Regions from separate parts of the Homo sapiens genome. Here all the other regions are linked to region 2. The links come from fine-mapping of genetic effects on gene expression. A gene starts in region 2. Each other region holds a variant in brackets. All regions are shown on one strand. Distances are from middle to middle.

Region 1 (10,014 bases), 25 kb before region 2:
TATGAGGCTCCTGCAGCTGTTCCTCGCTCCAGATAAAGGCCATGATTTATTCTGTGTGCCCAAATGGGGCCTCATTATACAGGGCAGGACACAAGGACCCTACAGCAAGTGTCCTCAAAGAGTCGCCTCTCACTCCGTGAGCAAGACTCCTCGGCCTCCCACCCTCCGTTCACAGGCCCCCTCCGCCGTCTGCGGGCGCAGGCCTGGGAGCGCCGCCTGTTGCCATGACAGCCGGCCCCTCCCTGCCCCCCATCAGTAGGAAATCATCCCCTTCTGAAACGTCCTGTTGTGTCCCTCAGCTCCAGCCCAAGCCCCCCACCCAGCCCCCGCCTGCTCTGAGTCTCTGAGACAGTCACACACTCAGACTATGTGGCCAAGCTGGGGGCGGGGGGCATGGGCTAGGGACACACTAGAATATTCACGCTCCGGTGGCAGCAGCAGCAGCAGCCAGAGGAGCAGCCCGACACAACAAGGGACCCCTCAGGAATGAAGCAGCCTTTCAGGGCCAGAGGGGCTGTGGTCTCCCTTCCTCTCCTTAAATAGCCAGCGTTCCACCCACAGCGGCAAGGAGCCCCCTGCCACCACCGACACCCACGGGCGGAGATCACCTGCTGCCCCGCAGACCCCTGTCCCTTCCTCCCGGACCAGCAGCTAGAGGTAAGGGGCAGGCTGGGTGGGGTGGACTGGGAGCCCAGGGCTAAGCAGAGGAAACACTCAGCGGGGAGCCCTGCCCAGGGAGACAGGCAGCAGCCTGTCTCGTCCCATCTCTTTGGTGATGGTCTGACCTGTGCATCGAAGGCTGACCACAGTCTGAATTCACAGCAGCCCACAAAGCGGTGTTTCGTCCCTCTGATGGGGGCTTGCAGAGGGGAAGTGGCTTGCCGGCAGTCCAGGCTGCAATGACAGCACCGCTGCCCCTAACCATTAGGCAGCCTTGACCCATAGAGGAGCCAGATGCCTGGGAGAGGGCTCGGGCCAGGGATGGAGTGGCGCTAATGCAAAGGAAACTGCCACCACCTGGCCATGGCGCTGCCACCACAGGCCCTCCCCGAGGCCACACATGCCCACCTGCCACCTCCACAGAGGCCTATGACCTGTCCTAGATGCTCGACTCACCCACAGCCACGGGACCCAACACTGCCCAGGCCCCGGCCCATGCCACGCCCTTTCCTCTTACGGACACCGGCTCGGTGGCCGTCTGACCAGTGAGTCGTGAGGAACCAGCGAGTCTAGACTGAAGTTTGTGTTTCTAAAGGGCAACAGAGAGTGAAGCGGGGCCCATCTCAGACCAAACTGCAACAATCAGTATCAGAACTCCTCAAACGGGGGACAGAAAGGGAGAAGAAACCTCAGCAAACCTGAAACCAACCAGAAAGCTGTTTAAAATGGAGTCTCAGTCCCAGAGAGAGCGAGGGGCACGCCCTTCGGCCCGGGCAGGAAGTGGAGGGCAGTGCCCAGGCTGAGGCCCCCGGGCTGGAGGCAGGAGGCACCACAGGCCCACCTGGTGCCATGAGATATGCCACCCCTGCCGTCACTCAGGGCCCTGAGCCCAGTAACACTCTGCCGTCACTGTCCTGAAACTCTTCCTTTTTGAGCAAGGGGCTGCACATTCTCATTTCATACATGGGCCCCTAAAATGAGGGAGTGGCCCCAGGGCCAGGAGGGGGTGCTGAGCCTGGGAGACAACTCCATGGCAAACTCTGAGACTGAGTCACACTCCCCACCCTGGCGGTCTTCCAGGGAGTGAGACCGTTTCCCCGGTCTCACTTCCAGCTCCAGGGCCAATGTCCCCTGGTCAAGTGACCTAAGACAAGTTAGCAGACACTCAGCCTTGACTCCCTAACCTGCAACATGGGGCTAAAACTGGTTTGAGCCAGCACAGGCAGGCCCCCACCATGCCAGGCAGAGTGGTCAGTCGTACCTATGAGCTGCTCTCTCGTGGGGCCAGGTGATGCCTGCACTGTGGGGCACAGCACAGGCCTGAGGGACAGCCTGGGGTGGAGGGCACCCACCTTGGCCCCTTCCCACCCCCAGGTTCTAACAAGGGCCCCTCACTCACTGGGCCCCCTCTCCTCTTCCAGTCTCCAGGGCCTCCCCGCACACACCTTCCTCCTCTCCTGCCAACCTGAAAACAGCACACCTGTGTGCCCCTCCCATCTACCATGGGCTGTCCTCTCTGCTTGCCCATGCGTCTGCCCTGGAGCCCTGTTCCTCCAGTCTCCGGGTCCTCACCCCCAGCACATGCAACACGACACCCTCAAAGTCATGGGCCCCCCTCCCCTGCCACCGTCCCACCGGTACCTGCTCCCTGTTCTCCCCTGCCTCACAGGCCCTGTCAAGGGCTGTGTTCCTCCCTCCTTTTACCTCTCCTCCACAGCCCCCTTCACAGCCCTCAGCCCTTCCCCAGGGCTTCAGCCAAGCCTGTCTCCCTCTCCCAAGCATCACTCACCCCGCCTTCTTCGGCCCTCAGCTCTCCGCCCTCACCGTGGTTTTAGCAGTCCTAGGGAAAGTGCCAGCCGAGACCAGCCAGACCAAGTCAGAGTACTGTGGAACCTGGATTCCTGGGGAATGGGGTCCCCATGAGGAACTCCACATTGGACTAAGAACAGACCCTGTTCCTGGAAGCAGCAGGAAACCATCTCTGGTGTTAGAACTTCAGGCATCTTGAAACACTCTGAAGCCGGGGGCAATCTTTTCAGGTAGGGGAACCTGCCTAGAGAAATAGCTAAAAGGTAATATTATTAGGTAGTTGCCCTCCCCTTTGCTTGAGGACATTGATGGCCAGGTGCTCGGGCCAGCCCTCACCCTCCATGTGAGGGCCACAGCAGCTGGCCACTCGCTCTCCTGAAGGAAGGGTGCGGCCCACCCTTCCCTAGGGCTAGGGCCACCACCATGCCTGCTTCTCCTCCATATGAGGATGGCTCCAGCCTCCTCCTCGAGGGGCTGCTGTGTCCATGAACAGTCACCATGCCCTCTCTGCCCCGTGCCACCAGCATCCTGAGACAGCCCTGTGGAATCAGTAAGAGGAGAGGGGCTGGGCGCAGTGACTCATGCCTGTAATCCCAGCACTTTGGGAGGCCAAGGAGCACTTTGGGAGGCCAAGGAGAGAGGATCACTTGAGCCCAGGAGTTTGAGACCAGCCTGGGCAACATGGCAAAACCGTCTCTACCAAAAAATACAAAAATTAGCCGGGTGTGGTGGTGTGCGCCTGTAGTCCCAGCTATTCAGGAGGTTGAGGTGGGAGGATCACTTGAGCCCTGGAGGTTGAGGCTGCAGTGAGCTGATTGCACCACTGCACTCCAGCCTGGGTGACAGAGGGAGACCTTGAAAAAGAGAAAGAAAAAAAGAAAAAAGAGAGGGAGGGGAGGGGAGGGGAGGGGGGGAGGGGAGGGAGGGGAGGGGAGGGAGGGGAGGGGAGGAAGGGGAGGGAGGGAGGAAAGAAAGAAAAAGAAAGAAAGAGAAAAGAAGAAAGGAAGGAAGGAAGGAAAAAGAAAAGAAAAAAAGAAAAAAGAAAAGAAAAAAGGAAAATAAAGAAAAGCAAGCAAACAAGCAAAGCGAAGTGAGAGAGAGAGGAAGGTAGGAAGGAAGGAAGGAAGGAAGGAAGGAAGGAAGGAAGGAAGGAAGGGCAGGGAGAAATGTGCAGAGTGAATTTGCTGCAGGCAGGACCCCGGCTGTTCGGTGCAGAGCCAGGCTCGCCCAGGATGAGGACCCTGCCAGGGCTGTGGCCCGTGCCTCCTCCCCTCCTGCTGCCACAATGGGCACAGGCAGGATGCCAGCTTCTCTTATGCAAACCTCTCTCCAGCCTCTGCTTCAGCCTGGCTGTGCAGGGTGGGGATGGTGGATACTGGGAAGCCAGGTGCCCAGAGGAGCCCCAGAAGCTGTGCCATCATCAGCACCCACCTGGCCGAAGCCCGCTGGTGACCCCAATTCAAAGGCAGGCCAGGTGCGCTGTCCTGCCCTGGTTCCGGGCTGCGGGCTGCTCTGGCCCCACCGCCTGCCCACACTGCCACTC[G/A]CAGGCCTGGGTTGGGGAGGCAGAGTGTTTGGGACCCTCACTCTCCTTCTTCAATCTTCTGAGTTGACTAAAATCAAAACAAGAGTGGGTTTCTCTGCTGAGGGTGGGGAGCACCCTATCCAGACCCAGGGTTCACCAGACGGACATGACTTGTTACCCAGGACTGTCACAGGGCTCTGCACTTGGCCTTCAAACGTGGGCAAGCCACGAGGCCTCCAGGCCTCTCTGGGGCTGCAGATCCGTCCTCAACAGCGCTGGCCAGTGTCTCTGACGCTGGGTAAAATGGGTCTTCCCCTCCTGGAAGAGATGCTGCCCCCTGGTGGTGGATCTACTCTGGGAGAGAAAATACTCCCAGCTGGCCTGATACCCAGGCACAGGCTTCTCCTAAACACAGGTCTCCCCACCTGTCAGGATGTCCAAACGGAGTTGGTGGGCTGGATCCAGAAAGCCCCCAAGAGAGATGCTGAAACTCTCAGGTGGGTAAAAAGAGTAGACCTCTGACGTCCCAGGGTACAGCCCTTGCTGCCATCCTGGGGGCACCCTCCTAAGTGCCAGGGGCAAGCCATGGTCAGGGGAAGCAGAAAGCGGTGACACCCCGGCCACTGCACCTGTGGGCAGGTGGGTCAGGGAGGGTCCAGGCACTCAGGATGAACAGAACTCACCTGCCAAGGCTTGGGCTGAGGAGGAGCTGGAATCCCGGAGACACACTGCCCCCGCCCCTCACCACCCCTGTCACTCAGACAGCACACCTCAGAGGCAGAACAGAAAACCCAGAGCCTCACCCAGGCAAGGCTCACGTCCCATTCCCCGCCATGGCACTGACCCGGTCCTCCCAGCTCTGAGGAGCCTCAGATCTCCTGGGTGGCAGGGGTGCAGCTGCATAGCGGCGAAATTCCAAGCCCTGGTTCTGCGTTTGCCTTGTGCTGAAGTTCAGAATGCCTCTGACGCTCACGCACACCAAATGGACAAGGAGGTCCCCTCAGCAGCCCCGTGGGCGGTGCTGAGCTTGAAAGTGGGAGGTTCTGAAGGCATTGGAGGCCTGACTTCTGGACTTCAGAGAGCGTGAAGCTGCCTAGATCGCAAGCTCATTGTGAACTGTTTGCTTGTTCCCTCCAGGCTCTGACTCCAGCCAAAGCATGAATGGCCTTGAAGTGGCTCCCCCAGGTCTGATCACCAACTTCTCCCTGGCCACGGCAGAGCAATGTGGCCAGGAGACGCCACTGGAGAACATGCTGTTCGCCTCCTTCTACCTTCTGGATTTTATCCTGGCTTTAGTTGGCAATACCCTGGCTCTGTGGCTTTTCATCCGAGACCACAAGTCCGGGACCCCGGCCAACGTGTTCCTGATGCATCTGGCCGTGGCCGACTTGTCGTGCGTGCTGGTCCTGCCCACCCGCCTGGTCTACCACTTCTCTGGGAACCACTGGCCATTTGGGGAAATCGCATGCCGTCTCACCGGCTTCCTCTTCTACCTCAACATGTACGCCAGCATCTACTTCCTCACCTGCATCAGCGCCGACCGTTTCCTGGCCATTGTGCACCCGGTCAAGTCCCTCAAGCTCCGCAGGCCCCTCTACGCACACCTGGCCTGTGCCTTCCTGTGGGTGGTGGTGGCTGTGGCCATGGCCCCGCTGCTGGTGAGCCCACAGACCGTGCAGACCAACCACACGGTGGTCTGCCTGCAGCTGTACCGGGAGAAGGCCTCCCACCATGCCCTGGTGTCCCTGGCAGTGGCCTTCACCTTCCCGTTCATCACCACGGTCACCTGCTACCTGCTGATCATCCGCAGCCTGCGGCAGGGCCTGCGTGTGGAGAAGCGCCTCAAGACCAAGGCAGTGCGCATGATCGCCATAGTGCTGGCCATCTTCCTGGTCTGCTTCGTGCCCTACCACGTCAACCGCTCCGTCTACGTGCTGCACTACCGCAGCCATGGGGCCTCCTGCGCCACCCAGCGCATCCTGGCCCTGGCAAACCGCATCACCTCCTGCCTCACCAGCCTCAACGGGGCACTCGACCCCATCATGTATTTCTTCGTGGCTGAGAAGTTCCGCCACGCCCTGTGCAACTTGCTCTGTGGCAAAAGGCTCAAGGGCCCGCCCCCCAGCTTCGAAGGGAAAACCAACGAGAGCTCGCTGAGTGCCAAGTCAGAGCTGTGAGCGGGGGGCGCCGTCCAGGCCGAGCGCAGACTGTTTAGGACTCAGCAGACCCAGCAAGAGGCATCTGCCCTTTCCCCAGCCACCTCCCCAGCAAGCAACCTGAAATCTCAGCAGATGCCCACCATTTCTCTAGATCGCCTAGTCTCAACCCATAAAAAGGAAGAACTGACAAAGGGGATCCATCGGCCACCCCTCTGCAGGGGCTTGTGATGGCTACAATGGCTCCTAGACACTCAACGACTTCATCTGTGGCAGGGAGAGAGGAGGCCGGAAGAACAACCCCTGAACAATGGAGGCCTTTCTTTCCCGCTAGGCTCCCAGCCTCCTTCCCGCTACAGAATCGCTCATCGGCGAGGCTCAGCAGAAAGACCCTGAAGGCAGGCTGCAAATGACCCAGAAGAGGGACCTGGGAGTCCTGGTGGGGACGGGGAGGGAGTCTCAATACTCCTTTGCAGTGCAAGGTACTCTGAGTCCCCTCTGTAGTGCCTCTGCCAGACACACACTGCCTGAGTTGAAGAGACACAGGCCACACATTTCAGGCTGGTTGCCAGCGGACGTCAGCACTCACGGCCTGCAGGGACTCAGCACAGCTCTGGATTCTGGATCTCTCCTGCTGTAACCCCACGCACAAGCCTGCAACCCCCAGAGCTCTTTGACAGGCTCCCAGGCCTCCCAGTCCTGGACAAGCATGTGCAGTCACGGGAGCTCAGCTCAGGCCAGGGCTGGGCTGTGCACCTGCCTCCCACTGACCCAGACCCACTTCCTCCAGAGAGGCCTCTCTCCGCCTGAGCTATTTCCCTTGCTAGTGTGCAGATATTTCCCTAACATGTCCTTTTTTGTATTTGTTTGTACGGACCATAAATATAACTGTAGCTTTAAGACTACACAGGTTGTTATGTTTGGTCAACATGAAGCGTTTCCCAGAACTTCTCTGACCCAAGAATGGTGAAGTGGTGGTACAGTGGCAGAGGCAGCCTCGTGGGCTCTCTTGCTGGGGCTCTGGCAGCTCACAGCACATCTGCCCAGATTCTGAGGTTCTGCACTGTGGGGCTGGGAGGGCCAAGTAGGGGCCCTCATTCCTCACTCTAGCTGCCACCCTGCACCGTCCTTACGGCAACATGCTTTTGTAGCATGTTTGACTTTCCAAAACGTTTCCAGCATCTTTCAGATTTCCCCAACCAGCCCTTGGGGCAGTGGCCCTGTGCAAACCTTGGCTCAGGAAGGAGATTGGGCTCGCTCCACACACCCTGTCGGCGACGTTGCTGGTCAGCACGAGCTCCTGGTGCTGTCCCTCGGCCCCTGCACTGCACCGTCTGCCCCTCAGCCCTTCATTTAGACAAGCTGCTCAATGCCAGGCACCGCCCAGCTCCGAGGACAGTGGGCCGGACGCCAGGCCCCAGGCCACGTGCCTCTCTCACGGGCAGCACACGGACAAGAGCTCGGTAGTGTCGGGGAAGCATCTCGGAGGAGCTGCGGGAGGGAGCAGAGTGCCCGGACAGAGAGAGTGTGGCAGGGGAAGCATGGCTGGGGCCTCTGGGGGTCGGCGCTGCCTCTCACTGATACAGGGGACGCATGCAGAGGCAGCCTTGGTGGTCAGTGGAGGAGAATCCCAAACTGCTTGTGCCTCATTGCGTTTGGGATGCCTGGTGGACACCAAGTGGAGGTGACATGTGGGCAGCTGAGGACAGCGAGAGAGAGGCCTGAAGTGGAGCCTGGAATTCTCCAGACACATGTGCCATTTAGGGCTCTAGGATTCTGTCTGCAAGGGCAGCCATGAGGGCCGGGCACGGAGCCCCAGACGACTCCCCATGGAGAGACAGGGAGAAAGGTGACTCAGAGGAGGGGAGTGAGCAGGTGCAGCTGTGGGGGCGGGCAGAACCACAGGAACTCAGGGTCCCGGGTGCCAGAAGGGGGGCGTTTCTGCACCTCAGCAGCTGTGGTGAGGGCTGCTGAGGGGTCAAGAGGAGGTGTGGGTCCCTGGGCAGATGAGGCCAGGGTAGCACACGCGAGGGGCAGCGGGTGTGCTGGGAGAAGCCGGGGAGGAAGGCCCAGCAGTGTTTTTAACCCAGCTCCCCAGCCCAGTCCTTCAGAAAGGACGAGAGAGTGGCGTGGAGAAGCAAGCCCTGGAGAAAGTGTGGGGATGAACAGGGCTCACAGACAGAGGCCGGGCTGCACGGGATCTCAGAGCTAGGGCCAGGGGAGGTGGGAGACAAGGCCACCTGCTATAGGGACAGTGCTTGGGAAGGGAGGATGAGAGACCAAGGGTTCGCAGAAGGTGGGAACTTCTGGAGTACCCATGAGGTTTGTGGCCCTCAATTTAGAGTAAATGTGGGCATCTCCCTCCAGCCACACTGAGCTGCACAGGTACAGGCAGGAGAAGGTGGACAGGTGGGGTCAGTAGATGGGGTGGCCAGGGGGGTGGCAGAGTGTGAGGATTTCTCATGGCTCCCGAGAGGCTGCCAGGAGCTCGCTGAGCGTGGGGCCCTGTAAACTGGGAGCTGGACTATCCGCCCCGGGGTGACCTGGAGGGAGGGCAGCTACATCAGTGCAGGCTGCAGCACCGGGACCCTTCTGCGCCCTCAGCAAGTGGGTAGCACACAGGAGAGGTGGCAGGTGTGCCAGGAAGGGCTGTGGCCCAGTCCTCTCTGGCCCAACACGGCCACCTCACCTGCCGGCATTCTTCACAAAGCCCAGGTCAGCCAGCTCCACATCACACAGCTCGCAGCGGAAGCAGCCCGGGTGCCAGTTGTTGTTCATGGCCTTGATGACGCGGCCAATGATGAACTCACCTGGAAGAAGACAGGTCCCTGCTGGCTGGGGAGCACGTGCCTGTCCCCTCTTCGGACCCTCCCAAGCCCTGTCCACCTAGCACTCCGCCTGCTCTCTGCCTGGCCCATGGGCTCCCTCGTGGGATGGTGATGCCTGTAGGGGGCCTGACGGCTGCCGCTCAGAGAGGCAAGGTGGGGAGTTAGGAAAGAGCTGGGCCAGTTCTGTGTACCCCCTCGGCCCCCTGCCCCCCGCCACTGCTGCCCACTTCCCAGGCAGCCCAGGATGTGTACTGTCACCGGCCTTACCGCAGGATCCACAGCACGGAGCAAACAGCATTTGGAAGTCGTGTTCGCAGTACTTCCGGCCTTCAAACTGCAAAGGGGTCGCAGAGAGAGGACAAGCAAACCACCTATCATCCCCATGAGCAGCCCAGGCCCTTGTTGGGTCAGGACCTGACAGCAGGGGATGAGGCACTGAGGCAGGGGCATGCCGGGCTGAGGCTGGAGCAGTGGGTCCCAGGCCTGGCCAGAGAGGACACTGGCCCTTTTGGGATGGTGGGGTGCAAAGGGAGGTGCCCCCGTGGAAGCTGGAGAGGTCCGTGAGGCCACCTGTCAAAGGGCCACTGGTGTCTACTGAGGATCTGGACCCTGTTGGTCCGGAGAACAGGCTGGGGGCGAGGCGGTTTTAAGCCAGGAGGGATGAGATCCAGTCTGAAGTGTAGTGTCACTTGGTCCTATTTCGTATACCTTCTCTGTGGGAGTATCCAGCTCTCTCAGAGGCCATGAAGACCCGGGTATAGGAGACAGAAGGAAGGGAACGCAGGAAGGGCCTGGGCACGGGGAAGTGGGAAGAGCTCAGGGCTGCGGCCAGCAGGAGCCAGTGTGCACACCCTCCAGGCGGCAGCTGCCAGCGAGGGCCCCTGTGCTGGCCACAAGCGGGGCCAAAGCCTGCCTCTGCTTTCCTCTAACAATTGTATTTTCTGTTTTTTAATTGGTTTTTCCCTGTTCTCTAAAATGAGTGTCTTATTAGACTAAACTGGATATAGCCCTACCCAGTGACCTGTAGAGTCAGGAAGGG
Region 2 (10,014 bases):
GTAAATATTCACCTTCAGAAATGTACACGCTACACCTCAACAGAACAAGCAAGACAGTGACAGTGCCTCCCTTGGCCCCTTTCCCACCTGGAAGTGAAGACCTAAGGGATGGTTAAGCCTGCATGCAGGCTGGGCACGGTTGTTCACGCCTGTAATCACAGCACTTTGGGAGGCCAAGGTGGGTGGATCAAGAGGTCAGAAGATCAAGACCACCATGGCCAACACGGTAAAACCCCATCTCCAATAAAAATACAAAAAAAATTAGCCGGTTGTGGTGGTATGCACCTGTAGTCCCAGCTACTTGGGAGGCTGAGGCAAGAGAATTGCTTGAACCTGGGAGGCAGAGGTTGCAGTGAGCTGAGATCACGCCACTGCACTCCAGCTTGGGTGACAGAGCGAGACTCCATCTCAAAAAAAAAAAAAAGAGCCTGCATGCGGCACAGCACAGATAGGGACAGACAGAAGAAGGATAACCCGCTGTGGATAGAAAGCCCGGGCTCCTCTCCCCAGTGGCTCCCTGGGCTGTCCCTTGCCAGTTCACAAGTGCTGACTGTTAACTATTCAGGAATTCCGTAAAGCGTTAATGCCATGTTGGTGGCTTGAAATGAGCCCAGGTGGGGGTATCACACCACGGGACTGGACACCCTGCAGATCAGTCCCTCCATCCCTATTATGCCACTGGCCGGCTAGAAGGGGCCAGTCAGCACCAGAAGTAGAAGAAAAAGGAAGGAGGTGAGGGGCCATGGCAGTGCCACCTGGCCCAGTCTGGGGCTCAGGGCTCAGTGGTGCCACATCACAAGCCACATCACTTGTTACCCACTTTACAGTTTGCTTAAGCCCCTGACGCCACTGCAGCCTCGTGTGCTGTGCTGAGGGCTCTAGCTGCAGTCAGCTGCCCCTTGGCCGACACCTTCTGCCTAGGGGACCACCGGGCACACTCCTCACCCGGAGGAGGGGCAAGATTGGTGGATATGAGGGCAGGGATCTAGCAGCCTGCTCTGCGCTGTACTAAGCATGGGCTCAGCACACAATCAGGCATACGACAGCCTCACATGTGACACACATGACGGTCACACCATGGGTGGGACTCCACTTTATGCAGCCAAGCCACTGAGCTCACGTGGCCGTGGGTGTCAACATCCCAGGCTCCATTTCCAGGAATGCCAGGGACAGCTGGGTCCCTAGGTAGGTGGCCTTAATATCCTCCCTGTAGAACAATGGTGATGCCAGAGGTCCCTTCAGCTGTGATAGTCAAAGATCTTGTGGTTGTAAGTTGCAAAGTCCCTGAGTTGCTGCTGAGGCCGAGCCCCCTCTCTTCCCACGGCGTGCCACCCCATGCTCTGGGCTGCCTTCACTCCCTGCCCAGCTGGCTACTCCTGGGCTTCAGCCCCTCCATGCCCAGGTGCCTCCCACGGCTCCCCCTCAGACTTGCCACAGCTCTTCAAGCACTCCACAACCACACCAAGCATGCCATCCACCCCCACCTGTCATCACAGGAGGGGCATCCTCCCGAGCCCCACCCTCTGTGGCCCACCTCACAGCCAGTCAGTTGGGTCCTGTCCACTCCACCTCCCAGAACCCTGAGTCAGCCTCCTCTCCTCCACCCGCTCAGCCACCCAGGAGAGGCCTCCCTAGTGGCTGCCTTCTGTCTCCTTCCCCATCTCCTTCCCAGCAGCCCTTTCTCCACACAGCACCCATGGGTTCATCTGCAGACAGCATGGCCACACATGCCACTCCAGGTCACTTTGGTGGCTCCCCACAGCCCTCCCTCTGCTCTTGCCTGGTGAGGTCCTAGGGAGAGCTGGCAGGGAGAAGCCCTGAAGGTATGCGAGCAGAGAGGGTGTTTCCCAAAAGCAGCCTGGCTCTGGGCAGCATGGGGGATCCCGAGAGAACCAGGATCCAGGCACGAGGAGCTGCCCGGGATCACATGGGAACAGTGGACGTGGGGAAGGGCACCCAGCATGAAACGGTGGAAATGAAACTCCACTGCTTCTGGGACAGGAAAACTCTCGCCCACTCCGAAGGCCGGGTTGGATGTCTGTTCCTCACAGACTGGCCCGGCCCAATCCCTGTGTATGGAAGGCAGGGAAGCCAGTGGGGCACCAGCACTGCGGGCAGCAGGGTCACCTTTGAAGGAGCGGGTGCATTACACTCAGATCGCTCACAGCTGCGTCAAACAAACTCCAGGAGAAAGGACTGCGGGGAGCCACCGAACTGCATAAAGGGAGGCTCTTGGGAGTGGAACTGTGGCAGTTTCCTTCTCTTTATGTTTCTGTTATCTTTTATGTTTCCAGGTTTCTCCTTATTCTCTAAGACGAGTAGTATTGCCTGGACGAGGAACGCCCTACACAGTGCCTGCCAAAGGCTGACTGTCATCCCTGTGTCATTTGAGGGTAAGAGTTTCTCAGGCCCTTGGAGCCCACAGCAGCAAGGGAAGGCTGACCCCTGCTCGCCACCACCTGCCTTCCCAGCGGTTCCGGCCGGGCTCACCTGACGGCCTCCGTCTCCAGGGAAAGGCCCAAGGGACTCAGGGGCAAGAGGACCCTTGCCAGGGAGCAGTGGCACCTCGGGGCCTCCCATTCCAGCCCCGCACCCTTCACGGCTCTGTTCTCCTCGACATCCCTCCTGTGCCTGAAGGAACCGCCTCTCACCCACCTCCACCTCAATGCTGCTGCTGGGGCTGCTCCGGACCCTGTTCCTGTCTCTCCCCACTTTCTTTTCCTAGAAAACAGGAGAGTGAGAACCAGCCAGCTGGCAGGGATGCTCTGAGGAAAATGGGAGGCAGCCCCGCTAGAACCCTAGGGGGTGACCACAGGCAGCCAGTGGGCCTGCAGATGCCACTCTCCGGGGGATGAGTCCCTCCATCTCACTGCAGAGGGGCCTGGGCCAAGGCTTAGAGGTGACTCCAAGTCAGGGGAGCTAACTGGGAAGAGAGGCTTGGGGAGAAGAAAGGGAAGTGTGTCTGGAGGGCAGGACTTACAAAGTGACAAGTTACAGGCTATTTTTGGTTCCTGGGCTGCCCTGAGACCCCAGGCCACAGCCTTAATGGCGATCACAGAGGCAGCTCCCCTGTGGGCCTCGGATTTGAGACTGCAATCCTGGACACTGCCCTGTACCCTCCAAGCCCCTTTCCCCAGCAAAGCCACAGGTCACTCTCCGGGCTGGGGCTCCCCAAGAGCCCCAGGTCATGGGATCCTGAAGAACAGCATCCCCCTGCCAGGACTTGGCTGGGGGAGACCAGGGCCTCAGGGACAGCCCCCTCCCACCCAGTCCTGAGTCATGCACTTGTACCCAGCTAGGTTCCAGAAAGGGCTGCAGGGACAAACACTGGCCGGACACTGGTGGACCTGTGACTGGCCTCCTGAGTGGCTCAGCCTCTGTGGCCTCTGGTGACCTCATCTGTGAAATGGCAACGAGGGGCCTGAGAGCAGAGGGTGGGCCAGGCCCAGGGGAGCGCCCTGTCCCCAACCAACCCCTGCACAGCTGGTGCTTGGGCGCAGCTCTGGCCAAGTTCCAACATACCCTTCAACATTTTTAACATTTTTACCACCCCAGGTTTACAGAGGAGGAAACGGAAGGCTCCAGAGATGACACTCACCGGGATCGGGGATCGCACAGCGCGGGCTCGGGGAAGTTGGGGGAGGCACGCAACCTTTGAACCTTTTGCCCGTGGTTGGTGTCTGACCTTGGACAAGACCCCCTCCCGCAGCCCTGGGCGTCGGTTGTGAGCAGACGGCTGTCCCATCTTGCAGCGGGCGGGTGGGCAGGAGCTCCACCTTCCGCTGCAGGCGCTCGCCCAGAGGAAGAGGCGCGGGGGCTGGGGGACCCCTGCCCCGACGGGCGCTGCCGCCCCGGCAGCTGCGAGAATCCGACGCGCCAGGGCGGAGCGGGGATCGTGGCGCCGCGGGGCTGTACGAGGGCGAGCTGCGCCTCGGCCAGGGGTCCCGCAGTCCCGCCTCCCCGGCCCGGGGGCGTGGGTGGGGGCCGTTACCTTCCCGTCATGGTGGCAGCGACGCCGAGCCCTGGGTTGCCGGGGTTGCCGCGGGTCTCCCTCTGCTGCTGCAGCCGCCAGCCGAGCGCCCGCCCGCCAGCCCGGGCCGCGGAGCAGGGAGACGCCCAAAAAAGGCCAAGAGCCGCTCCGCCCGCGAGAGGGGTGGGCGGGGGTGGCAGGGTGGGGCCCGCGGGGCGGGGTGGGATGGGGAGGTCAAGGCTGAGGGTGGTGGGGGTGTTGGGGAGGTGACGGTGGGAGGTTGCGGGAGTATAGGTGGGGGTGGGGGTGGCAGGTGGGGGTGGCGGCGGGTAGGGTTGGAGGGGTGGGGGTTAAAGGTGGGGCTGACGGTGGGGTTGGAGGGGTGAGAGTGAGGCGGGGGTGGGAGTGGGGGTAAAAGTAGGGGTAAAGGTAGAGGGTGGGCCCCGCTCCCGCACAGCCCCAGCTCCAGGGACACGGAGCGCGGCCAGCGGCGGGCGCGGGTCAAGTCCTTCCCAACCCGGGCTCTGCTCGCCACCTCCTGGATTCCGGGCATAGCTTTCCTTTTAAAGGGAGTAAAGTTATAATAAACGCGAACAAGCACCCCCACCCCCACAGCCCCGCCGGGACGCCCCGCCCGGCGCCCCCTCTGCAGTCCCTGGGCCGCCCCAACCGCAAACGCGTGCAGGAGATGGTAGGCGTGGGGGCGATGCTGAGACCACCTCCCTCCCGGGCTTTCCTAGCCCGGAGTTCCCACCGCGGATCTGGGCACTGACTCCCTCCCGAGGCACCCGGGACCGCCGAGTCCACGCAGTCCCGCCCCCAGGGAGGCTAAAGCCGAGAGGCGTCCCTCTTCAGTCGCAAAGCTGCTTTCCCCGGGAAATTCCGATTTCATCCCCCGTTGCGGGCCATCGCCCTAACTTGGCGAAAGATATTTCTTAAACGACAAAACCAAATGCCCAGCTCCCAGGTTTCCAGGGGAACCAGGCACGCCTCTGTATAATGAAGCGCTGAGAAGCTACCATTAGAGGCGTTAAGATGGAGGGGTAATATAAACTATTTAGGGAATCTCTTCGGAGGAAATTTTCAAACAAACAAAACAAAAAACCCCCGCCCTGCCTAAAGGCAGATATTTCCAGCTGGACAGTGGCGTGCAGCTCATCTTTGGAAGCAGCCCAGATGTCACACTGAGGTTTGGGAGCTGGGCGGCCTGATGTGTAAATGTGGTGCTACTCCGGTCTTGGCAGCAGAGAAAGATGATCTAGAAATGACGGTGTGAATTAGCAACCCACAAATAAACTGGTGCCGTTCAGAAAGATGAGTTGATAGTATCCTGCAGTTCCACCTGCAGAAATAAGCTGGGAAAAGACACCTGTTCCTAAGTGGCTGGTATTGTGGAGTGCCTTTGCAGTTGTTACTTTTTTTTTTTTTTTTTTTTTGAGACGGAGTTTCGCTCTTATTGCCCAGGCTGGAGTGCAATGGTGCAATCTCCGCTCACTGCAACCTCCGCCTCCCAGGTTCAAGCGATTCTCCTGCCTCAGCCTCCCAAGTAGCTGGGATTACAAGCATATGCCACCACACCCAGCTAATTTTGTATTTTTGATAGAGATGGGTTTCACCATGTTGGTCAGGCTGGTTGCAAACTCCTGGCCTCAGGTGATCCGACTGTCTCGAGTTATTACTTCTTGTTGCGAGCGTGTCTCAGCTGATTCGGCTTAACTGTAATTTGATGGTTGATTAAGCTTAAGTATGGATAATTTCTTGGCTCACCTGCTCATACAGGGAGAAAGGCTTTCCACCATTACTGACACAGAGGTGTAGGCATGCTGGGGCCGTGCACCAGAAATCCACTGCTGGACGGTTAATTGAATATCAGGGTCTTGTGGGAACCAAAGAGGATGAAAAGTTGAAAGCATTACACCAGAGGCCCATGCTCTCCACAGAGGAGACCACATTCCTGCCTTTTAGCCCAAAAGCCTCCCTGCATATGATAGCTGAGCACACACGGATCTGTATGTGGCCAAACCAGGACCCTATGCAGCTCCCAGTGTGCCTCATCCCTGGGCCAGGGCAAGCTCAGTAACAGCTGGTAGGGGTTGTGGGCATGGCTTAGCCCTGCTGGAGATGCAGAGGCTTCAAGGAGCCAGGGCCAGCCTCCCACAGTTCAGCCAAGAGGGCAGAGTTGCAGGAAAGAGCTGGCAATCACACATTCACACACTTATCCACTTGTTCCTTCAAGAGTATTTATACCGCATGGGCACTGGAAGTACTAGGGGGAGAAAGAAGCCATGGACCAGGCTCTCATGGAGTTTAGCAGGAGGTGGAGGATGGGCAATAAACAAATAAATAAATACGCAAACTAGATTTTAGACAAGGGTAAGTGCTGCAAAGAAAAGGACAATGGTGGTGGCTGCTTTAGAGTGAAGGGTGAGGGAAAGTTTCTGAGCAGGTGACATTCAAGCTAAACCAGAATAAGGGAAAGAGCCAGCCCTCAGCCATCTGCAGGAAAAGCATTCCGGCAGAACAGCAAGTGCAACAGCCCTGAGGTGACATGAGCTTGGGGTACGCAAGGTCAGAAAGAAGACCAGTGGGTCTGGAAAAAGGGGAGGTGGCAGGTGGAGGGGCACGGGAAATAAAGGAGAGGGCCCAGGGCAGAGCAGCAGGGCCACAGCAGAAGTAGGATTCCACCCTTAGATGGAGAGTTCTAAGCAAAGACAGACACAACACTCTAGCATCAGCAGGGGTGAATCTCAGAAATACTGACTGAATGAAAAAAGAGCACCTTTTCCATCTATATCAAGTTCTAGAATAGGCAACATTTGTCTGTGGTAGAAAAAATCAGAACGGTGGCTGCCTCAGGCTGGTCTATTACACCCCGGACTGCCCTGAGGTGGCAGGACAGGGGTTGACTAGGAAGGAATGTGAGGGAGTTTCTGGGGTAACAGGCAATGTTTTAGTAGGAGTTTGGGTCACACAAGTGTATATGCCTTTGTTAAAACTCATGGAATATATGGCCAGGATTTGCACATTTCATTATATGTACATTTTACCTCAAAAGAAAAATACCGTAAACGATACTGAACTCCAGTTAATGACATACAATGCTGAAGTGTTTAGGTAGAAAGGTACTGATGTCTGCAACTTACTTTGAAATACATTGTTTAAATCAAGATGAGCCGATGTGGTGGATCCCCGTAGTCCCAGCTAGTCCTTAGCTACGGGGAGGCTGAGGAGGGAGGATCACTTGAGGCCAGGAATTCAAGACCAGCTTGGGCAACATAGCATGACTCTGCCTCTAAAAAATGAACTCAAGATGGGGAGATGGGTAAAGGGAAGGACAGAGAGGTGGTAACGTGAGTCTACGACGATATTAATGGGAGAATCTAGGTGGTGGGTATCTGGGTTTTCAACTTTGATGAGTGCTTGAACTTTTTCATAGCAAAAGGGGGAAGTGTCCCTAGCTGCTGTGTGGCCACTGTGTGAGGGACAGAGTGGTCTCAGGGACAGTCTGATTAGAGGCTATGGTGAGCGTCCAGGAGGGACTGGTGCCTTGGGCCGTGCGACAGTAGGGACATTGAGAAGGCATCAAACACAGGATCTATTTTGCAACCAACAGGATTTGCTGGGAATCTGGATGTGTGTGTGTGGCCGGCGTGGGCGTGGTCAGCACAGGTGTGGTGGTTGTGGGGCAGGTGTGTGTGTGGCAGGTGTGAATGTACAGCCGTGGGAGTCAAGAGGACTTGCAGGTGGCCTTGCTTTCCTAGATATTGGTGGCAGTGGGACAGTCTGGGCAGGTTAGCGAGGGGTGACGTTGCATTGGGCCCTCCCCAGGCATCCCAGGGGAGATGGTGGGCGGGGCACTGTGAACCTGGAGCAGGGAAGAGAGGTCCATTCTCCAGCGTAGATGCAGAAGGCTTGGTACAAATGGAATTTCAACTCTAGGGCTCCATGGAGACCCTGGGGTGTCTGTACCAGTCAGGAGCCCTCCAAGGGTAAGAGGTGGGACTGGCAGAAAGTGAGGGGGAGAGCAGGAGAGTGTGAGGTGCCACAGAAGCCCGGAGGGAAAGAGCTCCAGGGAGGAGGTGCGCCACTGCCCCGTGTGCACACTGCTGCGTGCAGAGGCCAGGGAAGCATCTGGGTTTGGGTCAAGAGCCGGTCCCTTGGAGTGAGGGGCCTGAGTCCAGCTGCAGAGGGGCAGGCAGGGCCCCTGCAATGCCTCCCCCAGGAGCACCCCTCCCTGGGGTCTGTGTAGATGGTGCTCCCCAGAGTGCTGCACACAGTGCCCCTGGGGGGAGAATGCTCTGAAAGGGGGGGCAGAGAAGAGACGGCAGTTGGAAGTGGGGAGGGGAAGGGGAGGGAAGGTGAGAATGCAGTGTCCATTCCCAGGTCTTATGGGATGGCATCACTGAGGGACATTCAGAGAGTGGCTTGAATCACACACTTAGTCTTCGCTGGGGGACAGTGGGGCTCTGAGGCTGAGGCTGGGCCACAGAGTGACATGACAGCTGTCCTAGAAGGTGAAGGAGGTGCAGCATCTCCCTGGGCACGAGCCTTCTGCCCTCTGGGGTTCAGGGCAGGTGGGCACCCCCTTTGCTGGGCAGGTACCCGAGTTTCTCCACCCCCCACCTTCTCCCTTCCCTACTCCAGGGGACAGCTACCTGAGACAGCCCAGGGCCCAACGCTCGTGGGAGCTGGGACCCAGGGCCAAGAGAGGGGCTGGGCTTGGTCAGCGTGGCTAATCAGCAGTAGGAGGCTGAGGAGAACCCGGGGTCTCAAAGTGCCTCAATGAGCCTCCGCCAATATCCAGAGCCACAGCCCTGTCCCCATGTGACCACAGGGAATGGAGAAGGCCTTGCAGCTCTCAGGAGGCCTCAGGGTCTCCTGCCACAGCCCAGGTCCTGGGGCAGGAGCTAGCATGCCTTCCCAACAGGTAGGCTGTTCATCCTGCCTGTTCCAAGAATGGCCCCGTGTGATGTGAGGCCACCCAGACGGCCACTCTACAAGGCCTGTGCCCCAAATCTGGTTAAGGCCTGTCCCTTTCAGGGCACTGGGAACTGGCAAAACACAGAGACCTGCCGAATATCAACACAAAGTTCAAAGCCTTCAGCCGCCTCCTGCGAGACCAAAGTTAACTTGGGAAGTGGCTGTGAGAACCCCCCGGGGGGGAGCGGGGAAGCACCTGCACAGCCGGAGCCCTCCCGGGCGGCTCCCTGGGCCAAAGGAAGAATAGTGAGCAGGACACCGCCCCTGGCACCCACAGGTTTCACAACACATTGAAAAGTAAATGTCTCTTTTTAAAACTAGGAGCATAAAACCAGCTGGGCACGATGGTGCATGCCTGTGGGCCTAGCTCTTCATGAGGCTGAGGTGGGAGGATCGCTTGAGCCCAGGATTTCGAGGTTACAGTGAGCTATGATTGTGTCACTGCACTCTAGCCTGGGCAGCAGAGCAATCTCCTGTCTTTTAAAAATAATCATAATAAATAAATAAAAATAAAAATATGAGCCTGCCCTCAGAACTGTCATTAGACACACCCTCTGACCAGCACAAAATGGCCTTACTTCTCCCTGTGCCACACGGCAGCTCAGTGAGAGAAGCTGGCGGAATGTCGATCCACAATTCTCTCAACATTTGCAGAACACACAAGAGACCCAGGGATTCTTTTCAGTCTGAGGGGAACACAGTGCCCTTCTTGAAAGTCTGATTTACTCAGGAGTAGAGGTGGACCATCGAGCTTCACAATTTTCCAAAGATGACCTGGCCTTGGAGTTCGGGAGGAAAAGGCCATCTCACTCTCGCCTTTGCTCTGGGACAGACTCCATTCATCTCATGGGTTTGGCTACCCGAGGGCAGCCCCCACCACATATCCAGGAATGCCACATTTTAACACCTCAACACATCATGCCGTCGAGTATCCAGCAAGAAGCCTCCTGGGCGCAGAGCTCCTCACCTGCGGGGCACCTGCCTCTCCCTGCCTCTGAGAGTATCTCTTCCACATACTGAGGGTCACTTTGCTTCTTTTTTCCCATTGTGACCTTCCCACTGGA
Region 3 (10,014 bases), 39 kb before region 2:
GGTGCCTGCCTGGCCAGGGCCCCCTGAGGGGCCTTTCCCGGCTGACAAGTGCTACCCTTCAGGCACAGCGAAGAGCGGGGCTGGCAGCTGCTGTGGCTGTGCACGGGCCTCTTCCCGCCCAGCAAGGGGCTGCTGCCCCATGCCCAGAAGTTTATAGACACTCGGAGGGGGAAGCTGCTGGCCCCCGACTGCAGCCGCCGAATCCAGAAGGTCCTGAGGTGAGCCCAGTGCCTCCAGCCCCCAGCATTGGCCCTGGGCCCGCAGACCTGGGATGCTGTGGGGCCTGGCCAGCCTTCCAGGAGCTCATGGTCCTGGGAGGACTCTCCAGAAGCCAGTGTCAGCTTGGCAGGCAGGATTGGGCCCCGAGCTGCCAGAGAAGAGGGTGGAGGGTGAGGCCCAGGAGGGTCAAGAGAAGGCTCAGTCATAGCCACCAGCTCCCCTGCCCCACCACTGCCCAGCAGTGGCACAGAGGCACTGCCTGAGGGATAGAGAGAAACCTGGATGCCCCAGCCCAGGCCCTCAAGGCTGAGGTCAGAGGCCCATCCTTCCAAGTCCATGCGGCCTCCCTCATCCGCCCACAGCCGTGAAGCTCTTCCTTGGCCGTCTTTGCTCTCCCCCACCCCTCCTGCCTCCTCTGGCTTGGCCTCCTGTGGCCGTGAGGAGGGCAGGTTGACTGTAGGAGTGGCCATAATTTCAGTGGCAGCCGTGGTCACAGAGAGAGGTGGGCGCCCCATAGAGGCCCTGCCAGAGTCCCTGGCCCCTGCCCGATGCCCCTGTTGTGCGAGAATAAGAATACTGCCAGCCTTTCCTGCCGGCGCCTTCCCGGGAGCCCCTGGCCTGGCCCTTCCCCGTGTGTGCCCCAGGCTTTCAGGCACAGCTGCACCATCACTACCTCTGAGGCCGCGTGGAGCCAGGGGCAGCCCCCAGGACATGCGAGGGGCTGGAACCACCCCAGTGATGGTCACTGGGGTTTTCTTTTGTTTCTGGCACATGGTTTAGGGCCCACATCGGGGCTGGGGCATGGGTGAGGATGAGGGTGGGGGTGGCACCTGCAGCACACGCTGTCCCCCTCAGGACGGGGCCCCGGAAGCAGCCCCCGCACCAGGTGGAGGTGGAGGCCGCAGAGCAGAACGTCTCCCGCATCTGCCACAAGATCTACTTCCCCAATGACACCAGTGAGGTGAGGCCCTGCTCTGGTCTGCACGGCAAGTCTCAGGCCTCCAGAGGCCATGGGGCATCCTCCTTCCTGGCCCAGCCTGCTCCTTGGTAACCCCAGAGAGCCTTTTCTAGGGCTGTCCCATCCTAACCAGTCTCCCGCCCTCTCCCCATGGGATGCAGGCCCCACCTGCCCTTGGGTGCTTTGGAAGTCAGGCCAGTCCCAAGGTATGAGTTGGGGGATCCAGGCCCAGGACACAGGAGAGGACAGAGGGGTGGGCAGCAAGGGTGAGTCCCAGGACTTGGGGGCCCCTAGGGGCTTCTGACCATCTGGGGTGCAGGAGAGCAGGTATTCCCACTGTGTGTGCCTTGTGCACAGAGCCTGCCATGGCTGCTGGGGGAACAAAGGGGCCAGGGGGCAGGTAGGAGACCACCAGGACCCCACCGTGACACAGAGGCCTTGATCAGGGGCAGCAAAGACAAGCGGGCTGAGAGGCCAAAGTGGGCAGTGTCGCCTCGCGCCCTCTCCAACAGCACAATGGTCTTTTTGGCCTTGATATTCGGGTCCCGGTAACAGGAAGTTCCCACAGTCTGGCTGCTGGGCTCTCAAGGCGAGTCAAAAGGCCAGGCCTGCAGGGCCCCAGGACAGCGAATGCTGGGACTAAACAACATGAACCTCTGGCCAGGGTTCTGGAAGGGAGGCTTGCCCTGCTCAGGGCAGACCACATCCAACCCAAGTTTCATGAAGGAGCAAAAGTGCCAGGCTAGGAAGGCTCATCCTGGGCTGTACTGGCCCCTAGCCAGGCCCCGGGCCTCACCAGCTGCCTCTCTGTCCAGATGCTGGAGGTGGTTGCCAACACACGGGTGCGGGATGTGTGTGACAGCATTGCCACCAGGCTGCAGCTGGCCTCCTGGGAGGGCTGCAGCCTCTTCATCAAGATTTCAGACAAGGTGGGCCGGGCTGGGGCTGGGCAGACGGTGGGCGGACGGGCAGTGAGCGAGGCCCTAGGTGCTGCCTGTGGGGGCCTCAGCCTACCAGGGGCACCCATGCTGGACCAGGCTGCACGGCCAGGGCTGCTGGGACAGAGGTAGGTGGGGTCCTGGAGCAGAGCCAGCTCCACACGCCAATAGCCCACGCACAGCCGACTCCAGCGCAGCACCCAGGCCGTAGGCGGCCACTGGACCAGAACCCAGCAGGTTCTCAGGAGGACAGTCCCCGGAAGCCACCCAACTTCCCTGTACCTTCCCCTTCCCCAGGTCATCAGCCAGAAGGAGGGAGACTTCTTCTTTGATTCCTTGAGGGAGGTGTCTGACTGGGTGAAGAAGAACAAGCCCCAGAAAGAAGGTGAGGAGGCCTCTGTGGAGCTGGGGGAGGGCGTGGCTGGGTGGGTCGAGGGGGCACTGGCGGCCTCTGTGCGGCCCATGCCCATTCATCCATCCATTCGTTCCCGTGTGTCCCTGGGTTGTGGGAACAACCAGGCCCTGGGGCCCGGCGGTGAGGGCCAGCTCAGGCAGAAACAGGTGGCTGCACCTTGGAGTGATGAAGGATGCCCCAGGGCTGAGGGGCATGACCCTCATGGGCTGGGAGTGCGAGTCCAGGAATGTTCCTGGAGAAGGCAGCCTCTACACTAATATTGAAGGAAAATGTGGGGACTGGGGAGGAAGAAGCGTGGGGGCTTTCGAGGCAGGGAGGTGGCAGGCGCAGTGTGGGGGGTGGCAGGGGGTCAGGGCTGGTGTACCTGCTGGGACAGGCTTGGTGCCCACTGCTGGCCCTCGCCCAGGGGCCCCCGTGACGCTCCCCTACCAGGTGTACTTCATGCGGAAATTGTGGCTCAACATATCTCCAGGGAAGGATGTGAATGCAGACACCATACTCCATTACCACCAGGTACCGGGCAGGCTGCCCTGGTGGGCACTGGGGCCACCCCCATCTTCCCACACCTGTTCTGAGGCTGTAGAAGCCAGCAGGCCAGGGCAGGGCCAGCCTCAGCCCTGGGTACCAGCCCATGTGGTAGGCAGACCAAGCCCCTGAGGGCTCTGGAACCAGGAGCAGAGGGCAGCAATGTTTGGGGACAGTGACTGCACTGGCACCTGCAGCATGACTTGGAGAGGGTGGGACAGAGGGTCCTGTGACCCATGGAGCAGTGGCCGTGGCCTGCAGGGCCAACCACATGGGTGGAGCAGGCCATCACCTCCACGCAGATGTCAGGGGGCCCTGCCCTGACTCAGGGTCATTCCCCTGGCCTGAAACTCTCTACCCTGCTCAGTCCGTCCTGGATGGAGTGGGCTAAGCCCCAGTTCCCCACCATCTGAGCGGGAAAGAGGTTGGGGGCGGGTGGGCCGCAGCTGGAGACCCAGCATGCCCAGTGTGTCCATCACCCAGGAGCTGCCCAAGTACCTGCGCGGATTCCACAAGTGTTCGCGGGAGGATGCCATCCACCTGGCGGGCCTCATCTACAAGGCCCAGTTCAACAACGACCGGTCCCAGCTGGCTAGTGTCCCCAAGATCCTGAGGGAACTGGTGCCTGAGAACCTCACACGCCTGATGTCCTCGGAGGAGTGGAAAAAGGTCCCTGGTCGGGCTGGGGAAGGGTTCTTGTGCTGCTGCTCCTCCCTGGGCCCCTGCACCAGTGCCATGCCCTGCCTGGGCTCCAAGATCACATGGGTGCACATGGGTGGTGTGGAGGGTGGGCTGGCTCTGCACACACCACGCCTTCCTATGCCATCCACAGCACCGAGACTGTCCCATGCTGCATTCCTCCCCTCCCCTCCCCACCGTACTAGCCCTGGGGTAGGCAGGTGCTGCCCCCACCAGGGCTTTGGAGGGCCTCTGGGCACCCAAGTCCTTACTGGCCCTCCTGTCCCCCAGAGCATCCTTCTAGCCTATGACAAGCATAAGGACAAGACAGTGGAGGAGGCCAAGGTGGCCTTCCTGAAGTGGATCTGCCGGTGGCCCACCTTCGGATCCGCCTTCTTCGAGGTGAAGGTAAACCTTGCCCCACGCCAGGGCCTCCTACCCAAGCAGGCTCCGCTCAGCCCAGCCCCAGCAGGCCCAGCGTCAACCAGCACACATCTTGGGTGGGGCTGGCCGTGAGGCTGGAGGGCGTGGGTGTATGTGTGTATGTGCGTGTGGCCTAGATGAGCTCCTGGGAGGTGCAGCCTGGCCTCCCGGGCTGGACTATGACCGCCGTGTCCCTCCCTCCCAGCAAACCTCGGAGCCTTCCTACCCGGACGTCATCCTCATCGCCATCAACCGACATGGGGTTCTGCTCATCCACCCCAAGACCAAGGTAGCTGCTGGGCCTCCGGAGGGGCTGGGGGCCACCAGGTCCAGGGACCTGTGCAGGTGGGGCTGCAGTCATCTCTGCGGTGTGTCCTGCCTCTCTCCTGTCCCCTAACACACACAGAGCCCGTGCTCTGGAGGCGTCCGGCCCACCCACCCTCTCTGCCCCCAGGACCTGCTCACCACCTATCCCTTCACCAAGATCTCCAGCTGGAGCAGCGGCAGCACCTACTTCCACATGGCGCTGGGGAGCCTGGGCCGTGGCAGCCGCCTGCTGTGCGAGACCTCCCTGGTGAGCTCAGGTTCTTTCTCCCATCCAAGATGCATAGGACAGAGCTGCTGGAGACTGGGTTCCCCACCCTCACCCCTTTCAAGTGGCTCACTAAGAGGGCTCAGTCACAGGGCCCAGGCGGGGCCAGCAGATCTGGAGAGGGCCTGGGTGCATCCCCAGGACCAGCAGCCAAGGTGGCAAGGCCAGGCGGGACCCCCTGCGCCCTTGGCCCATTCCAAGGAGGGAGGGAGACCCAGCTCCAGCAGGGCAAGCAGAAATGACGGCCCCAATGGCAGGAGCCCGCCTTCCCTTTCTCCATGCCCTGCACTGCTGGTTGCTGAGGAAGAGAAGGTGGTCCCTGAGTCCAGGACCCCCACCTGCCCTCTGCACCCACAGCCTCTGACCCCCCCGTCCCCTGTCCAGGGCTATAAGATGGATGACCTGCTGACCTCATATGTGCAGCAGCTCCTGAGTGCCATGAACAAGCAGCGGGGCTCCAAGGCCCCAGCCCTGGCCAGCACCTAGCAGCGGATGCTGGCGTGTCTGCTCAGGCGCCCTTCCCGACCTCTAGCCTGGCGGCACCTTCCCAGGCCCTCTCAACCCAGGGCCTGTCCTTGGCGGGCAGCCTTCCATGCTGCCCCCCATACAAAGCCCACTCAGCCCCGCAGGCGGCCCCCTCTGTCCTGGGCGCTGCCCAGGGAGGCCAAAAGACGGGCCCAGAATGGGGTCGGGAGTCTCGGACCCCCAGGCTATTGGTGGATGACTGACTGACAGGACACCTCCCAACCCCACCCCACCCCACCAGAATGTTCAATAAAAACTCCTGGAGCAGGAGAAGTGTGTCTGTCTGAGGGAGCAGGGTGTGGCACAAGGTGGACAGGGGGCCTGGGAGGCTCTGGCCCGCAGAGAGCTGCAGAAAAACCAAAATGCCGTGTGACTGACTCCCCCAGGGAACCCGGAGGGCAGCTGCATTCTCCAGAAATGACTTCATCCCTCCCTTTCTGCTTCCTTCCTCCCCCTCCCTTCCTTCCTTCCTGTTTCTCAGACTGGGGAGGGGCACTCATGGGAGAGTTCTCCTCCCAGGCCCCTCCTCACACCTTCTGTCCTTCTCCCCACCCGGGGCATTGATACGCCTGCGCTACCCCCAGGAGGCCAGGGTGGAGGTGCGGCTCTCTGGCTGCTGGCTTCATGCTATGGCCAGCTTATGCCCAGACAGACAGTGGGCAGAGCTGGACATAGCACCTTGGAGGCCTGGATTCCCCCACCTCGCTGGCATGCCCTGTCCCTGCCCACCTCCTCCTCTGCCCACTGGGCCAGCTTATGTGGACCTGGCCACCCAGGCTTGTGAGGACCTGGCAGGGCTAGTCTTCAACTGCTTATGGCAGCCTGGCCTGGGATAGAGGCTAGGGCCCCCTGAACTCGTGCCTGTCTATGTCTGTCCCTCTGTTCAACTGCCCCAGCAGCAGCGTGTCCAGAGCTGCTGCCATCCCCTCCACCCCCGACCCCCGCCACAAACCACGCAGGCTGCTGTGGTTGTGTGAACAAGCCTTCATTGTGCAAGCGTGAGCC[CAACA/C]AACAAACACCAGGTCTGCGCTGGCCGAAGACGAAGCGTCCTCCCTGGAGGTGGGAACAAGTCACCTCTGACCACACCTCCTCTGACGCCATCACCTCCTCCTGGCCCCACCCAAGGGCTCGACACAAGCCCCAAGGTCGGGGGGAGAGGGGCGGGGCGGAACCGAGGGCGGAGGCCAAGGTGGGATTCCAGGAAGGCCTTCCGAAGGATGGAGGTGGGTCCTGTCCCTCCAGGTAGCTTGTGGGTGTGGACAGCAGGACTTGCTGGCTCAGTGTGGGCACAAGGACACTGTGCCACTGGTTGAGTGAGTGGTGAGGGATTGGAGGTGGCTCCCAGAGGCCTCCATCTGCATGGCCCTGGCCCTGTGGCTCCAGCAGGCTGCCCTGGCTGTGGGTAGCCCAGGAGCCACATGCGCTTAGTGGGGCCGCTCTGGGGCAGGGGCTCTCACAGGACAGCATGAGCCACTGAGCCGCCTGGGGAGGGCCAGGCCAGGCGGGGAGCTGTGGTGCAATTTGCTCCTGTCCCTGGAGGTCTGTGGGCGGAAGCTGTGGGCACAGGTGGACATGGCTGTCAGACGTGGGGTCATAGGCTCCCACTCCCCAGCTCCTGCCTCCTCACAGACAGAAGCCACGGCCAAGGAGAGGAGAGACATGGGGAAGGCAGAGATGAGGGAACAGGAAGGGAGAAGGCAATGAGGAAAGAGAAAGGGAGGGTAAGATGCGGAGGGCACAGGTGGATGGGGACGAGGGGGCCAAGCATGGACAGCAGGAGGGGAGAAGGCGGAGGGGCCGAGAGGCAGCTGCGCAAGAGGGCCTTCAGGCAGAGTTGAGGTCTGTGGCCTTGGGCTGGGCCTTGCGGGAGGTCAGCTCCGACAGCTTCTTCAGCCGCTTCTTCAGCTCCAGCGGGAACTTCTCGTAGCACCTCTTACACACGGGCTTCATGTCGAACTCCACAAACTTGTTCCTGAGGAGGAAGCTGAGCTGTCAGCAGAGCCCCACGCCCACCCCTTTAACCCCAGACAGGTGACTGTGGAGTGGGCTTCCCTCAGCCCCCAGCCTCCCCACACCAGCCTCTCCTAGCCAGCAGGCCAGGCCCTAGGGTGAGATGGCCAGAGAGCATAGGGATGAGAAGGGCCTTGAGGCTTCCCTTGCCTCCCAGAGGCTTCTCTCAGGTTCTGAAACCCCAGAACCCTCTATGCCTCCCCACAGCCCTTGGAAACCTGGACGCCATCTCTCCTCTCCCAGCTCCAGCCATCCCACACCCCTCGAGGCTTCCTGGATGAGCAGCTGACACTGCTGCTTTTGCATATGCTGTTCCCTGAGCTGGAATGCCCTTCCCTCCCCAGAGCCCAGGGTTCTGGCAGGTGTGTTGGAGGCATGAGTGTTCCTCCTCCTCTCACTGTGCCTGGGGTCCCTGGGGTCCCTGGATCCCCTAGACCCCCTGAACCTGCCCCCATCTCCCTGGGTGGTATAAGGCCGGGCTGCCCCTTGTCCCCACCATATCCCCAGGCCAGACTCAGCTGGTGTGCAGGAGGGCTGCTGAGAGGAAGGACCTGCAGGAGCCCCCTCCACCCTGAGCCCCATCCCACGATCACAGGGACTCACTTCAGGGTGAGCTTGCTGTTGCAGGTGGAGCAGGAGAAGCAGCTCACACACCAGGCCTTGTTGAGGGCCGACACCACTGTGAGGGAAGCGTGGGACTCAGCAGGCCTGGCTAGGCTGCCGCAGGCCCGGCTGGGCTCACAGCTGCAGCACCCAGGCCCCAGGAGAGCAGGTGGGGTGGGGGAGGGAACACAGGGCCTCACCATCGCCTTCAATCACATGGCTGCAGTTGTAGCAGACGTCCCCGAAGAGCTGTGGGCCGAGCAGGCTGTCAGAGTAGCTGCAGGCAGTCACACCCCAGCCCAGGGCCATCATGCAGCCAGCCTGGCCCTCCAACACGGCCCCTCTCAGGCATCTCCCAGGCCCTGCCTCCCAGGGCCCAGCTGCAAGGCTGGGTTGAGGGCACGGCAACCCATGAGAACCACCCTTCCGGGAAGGACAACAGGCTGGGGCGTTGCTCCCCAGAAGGCCCCTCTGCTCTGGCCACTGCTGTCCTGCAAGGAGGTGGGCCCAGGTGGTGACTGCATCCCACCAGCGCCCCCTGCCTTCTGTACCAGAGCAAGGGAGGGAGGGGGTTGCTGGCACTGTCAGCCCCATGTGCCCGGGACCTCACACCAGCCCCAGAACATTCTTCAAAGGAAGACACTGAGACTGAAGAGAGCTGCCCAGGTCTCGAGACCCCAGGCCAGGAGCCAGGGCTGAGGGTGCAGGCCTGGGCTCAGCACCTGGCAGAGCTCCTGAGGGGGTGCCCACAGCCTCCCTTGCTCACGGCAGCTCTCCTGGCCACCCCTCCAGACCCGCATCCCTGAAGGTTCTGCACCGGGCTCACCTGGTTGTAGTGAGTCTCGCAGTAGGCCAGGCCCTTCTTCTCATAGTGCCGGTGCCCCAGGAATGGCTTCTCACACTTGGCACAGACAAAGTGCTGCAAGGACAAAGGGCGGGCCGGGTGGCATCAGGGCTAGAGCGGTGACCCCGAGGGACAGTGGTGACCCGGGGACAACAGTGACCCCAGGAGCCAGTGACTCCAGGGGACCACAGTGGCCCCAGGAGGCAGCAGTGACAGAAGGGGACAGAAAGCAGAGTCTGGGCAGGTGCAGGCCTTTCAGGATTCACACTGGGCAGAGGGGACTGACACCTCTGTGAATGCCCTGGGGTCAGCAGACCCTACCCCTCCTCTAAGGCACTGATGGTAACCTTGTGAGTCACCATCCCCTCCCAGTCTGGCCTCCCCCTCGGCAGCCTCAGCCCCAGGAGTCAGGTGCCAGCCTGGTGCTGCGGCATGGTGGGCCCTCATAGGCAGAGGCGGCCCTGCCTGTCCACGTGGGGCCTCCTGCAGGCACCCCCTGCAAGCCTGGGATCACTGAGCAGCACCTTGCATTCCCCCAGGGATCTGCATGTGAGGATGAGGGCTGGGGGCTGGGGCCTGCATCAGGGCAGGACCGCATGGCCTCCCACCCAAGCCGCCACCCAAGGCACAGCTTCCGGACACAGCGCTGGCCAGGTCATCAGGGGAGGTGGTGGGCTCACTGTTCCCAGTGTACCCATGAGAACATGAGAGCCCACCACCCGGTGGGGGCACTCCAGGTGACCCAGTGCTCACACCTGAGGAACTCTTCAGCTCCGTGTCTGCACAGGGCTGTCCATGCAGCGGGTTCTGTCATCCACAACCCCCAGGCACTCTGGACAGACTGCCCCCAAGGTTTTCTCCTGACCTTGGAGTCTCTTAGAATGCCAGCAGGGGGAAGAGGAGAGGTGGGCACAGCTACCCAACCGTGTGTGTGCACTCGGGTCTCCTGGCTCCCGTGGGCAGGCTGGGGTCCCTGGCTGAGCACAGGGAGGGGCAGTACCCCTGAGGAAGGGCCTCGTTGGGAGCCAGCCACCCGCCCTGGGCTGGGAGTGTGGAGGAGCTTTAGGGCTCTTACCATGACCCTGAGCTGGGGCACCCCCCAACCTGAGGCCACGTGTCCACCAGCCTGGCTCACCTCCACGTGCCACTGCTTGCCCAGCGCGTTGACCACTCGGCCCTCGATGGGCCGGCGGCAGGCCCCGCAGATGGGGACGCCCATCTTGTCATGGCAGGGCAGGCAGTAGAGCTCACCCTTCAGCTCGCGGGCCTCGGCTGTCAGCTCCT

The links.
Region 1: its variant is fine-mapped to the expression of LIMS2 in esophagus muscle (GTEx, PIP 0.96).
Region 3: its variant is fine-mapped to the expression of LIMS2 in whole blood (INTERVAL, PIP above 0.99).

What each region holds. Positions count from the first base shown.
Region 1 is chr2:127,645,588-127,655,601 of GRCh38, forward strand. It overlaps LIMS2 (LIM zinc finger domain containing 2), which reads right to left. Exons shown (of 10, transcript NM_001161403.3): 3 at 9,243-9,309; 4 at 8,837-8,957. GPR17 (G protein-coupled receptor 17) reads left to right here and starts at 566. Exons shown (of 2, transcript NM_001161417.2): 1 at 566-657; 2 at 5,129-7,052. The coding sequence starts at 5,149. The coding sequence ends at 6,168. RefSeq lists enhancers at 3,373-4,100, 4,127-4,421, 4,827-5,554, 5,555-6,280, 6,700-6,759 and 1 more. The variant G/A (reference allele first, on the strand shown) is at 4,013.
Region 2 is chr2:127,671,023-127,681,036 of GRCh38, forward strand. It overlaps LIMS2 (LIM zinc finger domain containing 2), which reads right to left and starts at 4,508. Exons shown (of 10, transcript NM_001161403.3): 1 at 3,992-4,508. The coding sequence starts at 4,002.
Region 3 is chr2:127,632,184-127,642,197 of GRCh38, forward strand. It overlaps MYO7B (myosin VIIB), which reads left to right. Exons shown (of 48, transcript NM_001393586.1): 39 at 63-218; 40 at 1,075-1,180; 41 at 1,993-2,106; 42 at 2,413-2,500; 43 at 2,937-3,043; 44 at 3,539-3,724; 45 at 4,025-4,141; 46 at 4,362-4,445; 47 at 4,611-4,730; 48 at 5,133-5,543. The coding sequence ends at 5,234. LIMS2 (LIM zinc finger domain containing 2) reads right to left here. Exons shown (of 10, transcript NM_001161403.3): 6 at 9,866-10,014; 7 at 8,713-8,805; 8 at 8,087-8,135; 9 at 7,887-7,962; 10 at 6,243-7,245. The coding sequence ends at 7,098. Among named protein-coding and RNA genes, the nearest start is that of MYO7B-AS1, 6.4 kb to the left of the region's middle. RefSeq lists silencers at 634-723, 824-873 and enhancers at 1,144-1,373, 3,670-4,616, 4,617-5,563, 5,564-6,510, 6,511-7,456. The variant CAACA/C (reference allele first, on the strand shown) is at 6,279.